Regions from separate parts of the Homo sapiens genome. Here region 1 is linked to region 2. The links come from fine-mapping of genetic effects on gene expression. Tissue or cell type: sun-exposed skin. Region 2 holds a variant in brackets; the other region holds the start of a gene. All regions are shown on one strand. Distances are from middle to middle.

Evidence for each region. PIP is the estimated chance that this variant, and not a neighbour inherited with it, causes the effect.
Region 1: it holds the start of BPIFC, and the variant in region 2 is fine-mapped to the expression of BPIFC in sun-exposed skin (GTEx, PIP 0.98).

The regions. Positions count from the first base shown.
Region 1 is chr22:32,462,529-32,467,528 of GRCh38, reverse strand. It overlaps BPIFC (BPI fold containing family C), which reads left to right and starts at 3,083. Exons shown (of 17, transcript NM_174932.3): 1 at 3,083-3,155.
Region 2 is chr22:32,440,203-32,445,466 of GRCh38, reverse strand. BPIFC (BPI fold containing family C) reads left to right here. Exons shown (of 17, transcript NM_174932.3): 8 at 2,736-2,796. Among named protein-coding and RNA genes, the nearest start is that of BPIFC, 22 kb to the left of the region's middle. The variant T/G (reference allele first, on the strand shown) is at 2,960.

The sequences.
Region 1 (5,000 bases), 22 kb before region 2:
GATGGAAAGATACTGTTATTTTATGGTTGTTTGTTTGTTTGTTTGTTTGTTTGTTTTGAGAGGGAGTCTCGCTCTGTTGCCCAGGCTGAAGTGCAGTGGCGAGATCTTGGCTCACTGCAAGCTCTGCCTCCCAGGTTCACCCCATTCTCCTGCCTCAGCCTCCTGAGTAGCTGGGACTACAGGCGCCCACCACCAAGCCCGGCTAATTTTTTGTGTTTTTAGTAGAGACGGGGTTTCACTGTGTTAGCCAGGATGGTCTTGATCTCTTGACCTCGTGATCTGCCCGCCTCGGCCTCCCAAAGTGCTGGGATTACAGGCGTGAGCCACCACGCCCAGCCGATTGTTGGTTTCTTTCTAACAGAGAAAAGGAATTGAGAATGAGCAGGGGATGGGCTGGGCAGGGGCCAGACAGTGAAGGTGGGAGCAGGGGAAGAAGATGGAGCCAAGAAGCTGCTCTGGAGAGGAGAGAAACGAAAGAGGAGACCTCGGACCCTGGAGAAGGACAGGGAGAGAGGGGGCGGGGGAGGAAATTGATGTTGCCACCCGGGGAAAATAGTGAGGAAAAGGTAGAAAGATGTAGAGGTGTTTTGTGATTTTTTTTTTCCATATAGTGCTTTTGATGTTGTCCTTCATCTTCCATGTTGTCCTTCGTCTTCCATGTCTAGCTCTGTATTTTTTCTAATGCACAGTACAATTTCAAGAGCTTCTCTGCATAGCGCCTGAACTCATCTTCCACACTTTCAGTAGCACATGCACGTGGGAAGCTGCCTGCAATGATCTCATTCATTTCTGTGGCTTTAACTCCACCTTTCGGATGATGACTTAGACATTCATATTTCCAGTTGACCTCTTCCCTGAACTCTACCCACCTGACATCACCATTTACATCTCGAATACCATAACTTCTGCCCCAACTCCATTTCAGACAAACTGGCTCACCTTTGCAGTTCCCTCCACCTTTTCCTTTCAGCACTTTGCCTGCCTGGCTTCCAACGGTCACATCTCAGCGCAAATAATCACCTCCTCAGAGACGCCCACGTGGGTATCCTGATAAAATAAGCCCACCTCCCCCAGTTGCATTGCTCTACCTATTACAAGACCACCTTACCAACAACATTCCCTTAGTTCCGTCACAGTACATGTCACAATTTATACATTTTTGTTTATTTTATTGTTTGCTTATTTATTTTGTCTCCATCGACTAGAACATAAACTCCTCGTGGACAAAAATTTCATCTTTTTTGCTGAAGAGGACTTTGCACATTGTAGGTGCTCAGTAAATCTGTTGATTGAATGAATGAATTCATCTATGATGACCGACAATAAATGATCCCATGAAGAGCGTCTCTGCACCGTATCATTATTGATACGGCCACGTGCTAATGAGTAGAATTTCACAGCAGTTTACAGTTTTAATAGCGCATTCTCATGTGTTATTATGTTTTTCTTCACCAGAACCAATCAAGGAAGTTACTATTTCTATCCCCACTTTACCTTAAGGAAACTCAGTTCAAATCAGTAAGTATAACCCAAGGTATAACTCCCCTGAGAAGCTGTGAGAAGTATGGACAATGCCAAGTGAAAGCGTCTGTGGTTCCTTTCAGACTGACTTATCATCCTGATTTTCCCAGGACTGTTCTGGTTTTAGTACTGAAAATCCTGCATTCTTGGGAAACCAGGACAGTTGGTCACCGGGTCTTACCCAGAAAAGTGTAGATAAGCCATAAGAACTTCATGCAATCAGGCTGGGTGCGGTGGATCATGCCTGTAATCCCAGGACTTTGGGAGGCCAAGGCAGGTGGATCACTTGAGGTCAAGAGTTCAAGACCAGCCTGGCCAACATGGTGAAACCCCATCACTACTAAAAATACAAAAATTAGCCAAGTTTGGTGGTGCACACCTGTAATTCCAGCTACTCAGAGGGCTAAGGCACAAGAATCGCTTAAACCCTGGAGGCAGAGGTTGTAGTGAGCCAAGATCATGCCACTGCACTCCAGCCTGGGTGACAGTGAGACTGTCTCAAAAAAAAAAAAACCAAAAAACAAAAAAAAAAACTTCATACAATCAAATCCCTGGCCATCTAAAATACATTAATGGCCGGGTATGATGGCTCACATCTGTAATCCCAGCACTTATGAAGCCAACACGGGTGGATCAATCACATGAGGTCAGGAGTTCGAGACCAGCCTGGCCAATGCAGCGAAACCCTGTCTGTACTAAAAATACAAAAAATTAGCTGGGCGTGGTAGCGCACTCCTGTAATCCCAGCTACTAGGGAGGCTGAGGCAGGAGAATTGTTTGAACCCAGGGGGCGGAGGTTGCAGTGAGCCAAGATCGCTCCACTGCACTCCAGCCTGGGTGACAGAGTGAGACTCCATCTCAAAAAATAAATAAATAAAAATAAAAATAGATAAAACACATTAACTAAAATGAATTTATTGGAGATGAGAGTAGGGCTGGAGTTTGGAATCTGAAAATGTTAAGTTGCATAATAGTTGATGAACCCACCCACCCAACTTAGGTTTAAGGAATGCTGGAACAGTAAGTCATTAATAACATTCTGAAAAGGAGCGGACGGACACTGAGAGATGCCAACTGAGGTCCTACCCTGAGTGATAAGGTAACTAGGTCAGCCCGATTGTCAAGCCTCATGCTTTCAGACTGAATCTGATGATCCACCACAAGTCCCAAAGGTATTCTGGGCAGTAGTAGAGCCATCCACCGCAGGCACCCTGACCAGAAGGAACCAGCTTATGATTCCAGACAGGAAAATTCTTCCTCTTCCAATGCAGTTTAACACCGTTTTCAATCATTTTGGTAAAGTAGCCATCACAATTTCACAAGTGGTGTGTGTGTGTGTGTGTGTGTGTGTGTGTGTGTGTTTTGCAGGAAGATAATTATTGCATAGGTGGCACTGTCTGTTTATCTAGGTAGATACTGTAGTGCTCATTCATGCCATTGGGTAATTGTAGTGAAGCAATTATGTATCACATTTTGAAAGAGGCATTAAAAAAATTCACCACTGAGATGAGTCAGACTTAATTATCTTGGCTTTTTAGCAGCTGAGTTTAAGGCGCAAGGTGGAGAACACATCAGCTTCAAAGGCAGAGAGAATCGAAGGTGCTCTCCAGCTTTGGACACTTCCTCTGCTTGAGGTAAGACTCATGAACAAACTTCAGGTCTCTGCCAGCCATGATCTCCAAACTGGAGATGTCCCAGATTTGGTAGGACACTTTGAACAGGCAGCTGTCATATATCCTGGGTTATTATTATTGTCTGCCTAGATTTTTCTGTATCTTTGTTTGTTTGTTTGTGTGATGTCACATATGCGCACCTGGAGGCTTCTTAGGCAAAAGCTTTAGTGACAGCTAAACAGCCATAAGAGAGAAAAGAGTTGGTTTAAACCACCTACTTAGTTTTGCATCATGGAACAATGTTAAGAGGGTTGCTCAGTGATCTGGACTTATTTTTGCCTCCATTTCAGAGGGGAACCCAGCACAGTGGCAGAAAATTCTATCTTGTCTCTCAAAATCAGCATGGTTAGGACTAAGGAGTTGTTATAATCTCTGTGCTTTCAAGGCAGGTCTTAAAGCACATCAGTGACCTAGATCCTGCCAGAGCAAAACTAGCCACCCACTTGCCTGGACTGTTGAACTTGTTGGTGTTAGGCATAGAGTTTTGGGGAAAAGACATGCTATGAATTCTCAAGGTCCTTGTCATTAGAGATGTTGCTATAAAACTAGATGTGAGGAGTGGATCCCTTGAAATATTCTGCCCACGTTCCATACCTGTCGATTTAGACTTCTTATGTACGGTCATTTTGTCTTAACCAATATGTCGGAATACCCTTCTAGTTTAGACTTCTTTAAACCTGTTGAACTTAATTTTTCAACCTGCGCCTCTGTTTTGAAGGCTACATTTTACTCATTCATTACTCCCTTAATCGGTTTTTCCAGAGTCAGTCAAAGCTCTTGCCAAGCAGCAGTAGTAGTAGGACCATCTGTGAGTTTCAGGTGTTTTCTAAATTGGACTGGCATTTTCTTAGCTGTCAGGATGACTCACACAAGGACCATTTAATTTAGGAGTATTATTCTGTCTGTGTATTTGTATGGAAAAATAATGACTACTGAGATTTTGAATCTTGGAAAGAAGCAATTCCCCAGAAGCAACAAAATAGATAACTTGCTGGTGGGGTTTTTAAGTGATCTTGGATCCTTTTAACAGGCAACTAGCCCTGCCTGCACTTGTCAGCCAAATTACTTAACCTTTTAGTAGTCATCACCTTGCTTGACAAGGTTCCTTTCCTCCCCTGCCCATAAGTTATCATCGTAACTGAACAATTCAATGAAAAGTTATGTACAATTCACCCCTTCATACCCCAGTAATTTCTTTCACTCATAAAATTTCTAGAGGAAAAATATGTTTTCCTGCCTGTAATTTTGGATTCCTGGATCTCCATCAAAGTGTACCACTTCAGAAACTTTTTTTAACCAAGAAGGGAAAACAGGTTTTACTGCTGGCAGGGAATTTAAAACTCCAGTTGTGTCCAAGAAAATAAGAAGGGATTTGCACTGTGATGCTTGAACGTTTCTAGATGCTTATTGAATTTTTCCACCTTGAAAATGGTGTTTGGTTTTCTGTGCACATGTACCCTAGAACTTAAAGTGTAATAAAAAAAATTGAGTAACTTTTAAACAACAACAACAAAAAGGAAAATGGTGTCAAGCAACTCCTATTTAAAATTCCCAGATGAAAATGAAAACCCTAGCATGTATCGAGTCATTCAATAAAAATAAATTCATCAACACTAGAATTAGGAACCAGAAGAACAAGGTTGGGTTCCCAGGTGCCTTACTTACTGTGGGATCTTGGACGAGTCATCAGATTCTCTAAGCCTCCATGTCCACGTGTCTAAAATGGGAGTAAGATAATAAGAACATCCACTTCAAAGAACTGTGAGTTTTGTAAAGGGTAAAGAAATAAAAATTTATTATTTTAGT
Region 2 (5,264 bases):
CTCCTGGGTTCAAGGGATTCTCCTGCCTCAGCCTCCCAAGTAGCTGGGACTACAGGTGCCCGCCACCATGCCCGGCTAATTTTTTGTATTTTTAGTAGAGACGGGGTTTCACTGTGTTGGCCGGGATGGTCTTGATCTCCTGAACTCGTGATCCGCGCACCTTGGCCTCCCAAAGTGTTGGGATTACAGGCATGAGCCACCGCGCCTGGCCAATCCTTTAATTAATTCTTAATCAAGAAACCTTTATTGAGCATCTACTGTGTGCTAGGCACTATCCAAGGCACTTTCACACACATTAAATATCCTTTGCAACTTAATAACAGTTTCTCAAATCCCTACTATGTGCCAAATATTGTGGTAGGTGCTTGGGATGCAGAGATAAAGAAAGCAACAGCACATCTCTCAAATTTCTTACCATAGGGTGGGCAAACAACCAACAAGAATTTACTTATTATGTACCTATTGCATGCTCAGCTGCCATGGACTAGGATCTGTTGGGAATAGGACAGAGGGATACACTTGTGTATTCAAAAGCTCAAACTCGGGCTTGTGAAACAATAACTAACTGAGTACTTGAATTTAGTATACAGTTACACGATCATTAGATTGAGCAGGAGAGGTTCAGAGAAATGGAAAATTTTGAAGAAATAGGGCCTGGAAGTGTCCTGGGAGATAATTTTTACAGGATGCAGAACTTGAACTAGATCTTAACATATAGGTAGGATTTGTATATGTAAGGAATGAAGGATAAGAAGAGGTATTTCCAGGACATACAATAGGAATAAGTTAAGAAAATAGAATATATTAAGATCCTTTCCAAAGCTATAAGGCTTCTAGTCTCAGAAGTCAGTGTCTGAAGAAGGGAAAGATGGAATTGTCTATGCACTCTCTTTCCAATAATGACCACACCTTCCCTGAACCGTTTACCTGTATTTTGGGGGAGATAAGGACAGGGATGAGGAGGAATAGAAAAGAAGGAAGACTCTTCTGGAAAAGAAGGGACAAAGACAGGGTCTGGTCACGTCCATCTCTCTAGTGCTCAGCTCGGTGCTTGACAGACATTATAGGTGCTTAATGAAAGTCGTAAGGAAATCAACACTCAGAAGCATCAAGCAGCTCATCCCAGGAGGTGGCGCAGCTGTCCAGGACTCAGAAGCCTTATAGTCCTTCTCCATCCTTACCTGACAGATGCTGAGTGCCAATGAGTGTGCATATTAGAGTCCCTGGCAAAGTGCACTGTCATCCTCAAGGACCCCAAACTTGATCATTCCCCTGTTTGAAACGAGGCACGGTCCTTTTGCCTCTGACAGGAGGCCAGTGAAGAATGAGTTATGTCACAGAAGCCAATAATTAAGTTTGCCTGAAATTGATTTATGGCTTAAAGATAATAGATGTTTCTGTGATTCTCTCTGTGCCACTGGAAGATAGAAAAGAATGCTGAGACCACAGCTGTCTAGCTGTGTAAACTGAGTTCAAATCCCGGCTATGCAACACCTGGCAACTCACTTAACCTCTCTAAGCTTTGGTTTTCCCATCTGTAATTAGGGGACCGTCATGCCTCCCTCTCAAGGCTGTAGTGAAGGTGAAATGGAGTTAAACTAACAACGGCTAACACTTACTCAATGCTTACTATAAGCTGGGCAAGTTTACATGGATTACTTCCATTTCTACTCACAATGTGATGAGGTGGACACAATTATCATCCCCATGCAAATGTTGCAGATGTGGAAACTGAGATCAAAGAATACAAGTAACTTGCCAAGGGATTCAACCCTCGGCCCCAGGCAGCCAAGCCTGTGCTGTACCCACTATGCCAAGCACATCAATGAGCACACAAGAGGCACATCAGTGCTGATACCTCTGCCCCTTCCTAAAAATATTAATGTGACTCAAGACTAATTTTCAAATTCCAAAAAGGTGGCAACAAAATAGATCTCTAAGTAGATCTCTGATATAATGTGCTCTCCAACTAGCCCAGGGGGAAAGTAAAAGCTCTAGCTCTGGGGCCGGGCGCGGTGGCTCACGCCTGTAATCCCAGCACTTTGGGAGGCCGAGGCGGGTGAATCACGAGGTCAGGAGATCGAGACCATCCTGGCTAACACGGTGAAACCCCGTCTCTACTAAAAATACAAAAAATTAGCCGGGCATAGTGGCGAGCGCCTGTAGTCCCAGCTACGCAGGAGGCTGAGGCAGGAGAATGGCATGAACCAGGGAGGCGGAGCTTGCAGTGAGCCGAGATCGCGCCACTGCACTCCAGCCTGGGTGACAGAGCGAGACTTCGTCTCAAAAAAAAAAAAAAAAAAAGCTCCAGCTCTAACCATTCCAGGTAGGGCATGCAACCGCTCCTAGAGGAGATGGCAAGCTGGCGGCACCCCCAGCAGTCAGGAAAGATACAGCAGCTCCAGCAGCAGGTTCCTCGGGTATAACAGCATGGACTGGGACGCATGCCCTATCATGTCACAGAAAGAAACGACAAGGGCTCACTCACTCTTTACAGGGCTGATTGGATGTAGTGCTAGTTGCTACAAAGTTCAGCTGGCATTCAGTGACATACCACCCGTATCTACGTAAAGCGAGGCCCATAGACATCAACAAATTTAAGAGAATGTCTCGATGACCAAAGGGATAATGACTGCTAACCAGAAGGCCTTTGTTTGCAGGGTCTAGGCCCATCAATAAGGCTTTCCAGTACAACATGGTAACTTGCTTTTTTCTTTTTATTCCTTTGTGGCCAGCTCTGTCCCATTATTGCAAGTGAAGTCAAAGCGCTAAATGCCAACCTCAGCACACTGGAGGGTGAGTCTTAGAACTGTCTTTTCCAGATGGTTGTCTTCCTACCTTCAAAAGCTGGTACTGCCTGGGTTTGCTTTTCAAGGCGGTATAGCTTGAGCTATCCATCCTGCTTCATATTCTGCAAATTAGAGCCCCGGGAAGGTGCTTGGGAGGATGTGCCTTGTGC[T/G]TAGGGCATATGTACTCTTTGGCTAATAACTAACTTCACTGCCACAAGAGGGGTGGCTCCAGGGGGATGAGATGTAGGTTCAGGAACTAAACCCTCACGAGCACGAACCCAAGCAGTGACATTACATCCCTTCTCTTCAGAGGGATTAACACTGATCTTGACCAGGTTATTCTGGGGTTCTCAGCCTGCAGTGGCTGCCCTGAGCATCAAGTCCTCGCACCTTAGCATGGACTACAAGATTCACCACACCCCATCTCCTACTTACCTCTCTCTGCTTCATCTTTCTCTTTACCTTTCTCTGCCCCAGCAATCAAACTGTTTCCACTGCCCTCCTCACCCCTTGCCTTTGCTTTTGCTGTTTTCTCTGCCTGGAAGAGCTTCCTCTCTCCTCCATCCTTTCATTCCTTTAACCCAGGAGTCCCCAGTCCCTGGGCCACAGACAGGTTAGAAACTGGACTGCACAGCCGGAGGTGAACAGTGGGCAGGCGACTGAGCATTACTGCCTGAGCTCTGCCTCCTGTCAGATCAGTGGCAGCATTAGATTCTCATAGGAGTGCGAACCCTATTGTGAACCGTGCATGCGAGGGATCTAGGTTGCATGTGCCTTATGGGAATCTAATGCCTGATGATCTGAGGTGAAACAGTTTCATCCCGAAACCATCCCCCCCAACCCCAGGCCATGGAAAAATCATCTTCCATTAAACTGGTCCCTGGTGCTAAAAAGGTTGAGGACCGCTGCTTTAACAGATACATATTGAGTGCCCATTTCTAAACCTGCAGAGTTTAGCCAGCACTGTGCTAAACCCTGGAGGATTTAATCCTTTCCGTTCTCTATCTCTCTTTATATGTTGTGTTCCCTCCTCTTTATATTTAAGACCCAGCTCAGACATAGCCTCTTCCAGGAAACCTTACCTGACAGCCCCCACTCCGTAAAGTTATGCCTCCTCTGTGCTCACATGACACTTTGGACATCTCTCTCTCACTTTGCACTCCATCCATTCATTCACCAATGGCGCGCTGAGCACCTGAAATAGCCTGAGCACTGTTCTTGGTGCTGGGGATGCAGCAGTATTCCCAGGCAACAGACATACCTGCCGTCATGGGAGTAGTGGGAGGAGACAGACAGCAAGCAAGATAAACAAGTAAAATCTAAGTTATGGCAGTGATAAGTGGTAAGAAGAAAAATAAAGCAGTGGAGGAGGTGGAGAGGAATTTCCATTCTAGATAGAGTGACCAGGAAAGCCACCACTGAGCAGGTGGCATTACTAGAAAAACCCAAAGGGAGTAGAAAGTGAGCTGCTGCTCAATCTAGATGAAGATTCCAGATCGAGGAAACTGCAGGCACAAAAACCCTGAGGCTGAATATCTCAAGTGTGCTGGGGAGGCTGTGAGAAGGACACACTAGGAGCAGGGGGTTGGGGGAGAGCAGGCAATGAGGCCAGAGATGGGGAAGAGGGGATGGTTTGATCTTCAGGGATGTGTAGGGACTGCAAAGTCCACCTCTTAATCTAAGATGGGATGCCTTTGAAGAGTAAGGCCGGCATGACTTAACTTACAGTTTAAGGAGATCGGTCTGGCTTCTGTGCTAAAAAAAATAGACAGGAAGGAAGGGGGTCAAGGGCAAAAGCAAAGAGACTACTTAAGAGATGAGTGCAGTGACCCATACAATTAATGATGGTGGCCGGCCTAGGGTGGGGTGATGAAGATGGTAAGGCATGTTGGGATTCTGGATGTACCTTGAAGGTCAAGACAGTGGTTTTTGTGCAACAGATCAAATGTAGGTCAGGAGAAGAGTGAAGGGTGACTTTGGTGGGTAAAACCCTAAGCAATTGGAAAATTGGAAGAAGGGATTTAGCATTTATTGAGATGGGAAAGAACCTAAGAACAAGTTTGTAGCAGGATCATCAGGAGCCCAGTTTAGATCAGCCTTTGCTGTGTTGTATTATAATTTCCTGTTGATATATCTGTCTACTCCCCAAGACTATGAGTTCCTTGGGTGCAGGAACTTTGACTCACCGCTGTGCCCCCAGCGTCAGGCACAGCACCTAGCCCATTAGATTAAGAAATATCAGGCGCAGTGGCTCACTCCTGTAATCCTAGCACTTTGGGAGGCCAAGGTGGGAGGATTGCTTGAGGTCAGGAGTTCAAGACCTGCCTAGGCAACATAGTGAGACCTTGTTTCTATATAAAAAAAATTTTTTTTTAATTAGCCAGGCATGGTGGCGTGCGCCTTTAGTCCCAGCTACAGGGAGGCTGAGGTAGGAGGATTACTTGAGCCCAGGAGGTTGAGGCTGCAGTGAGCCAA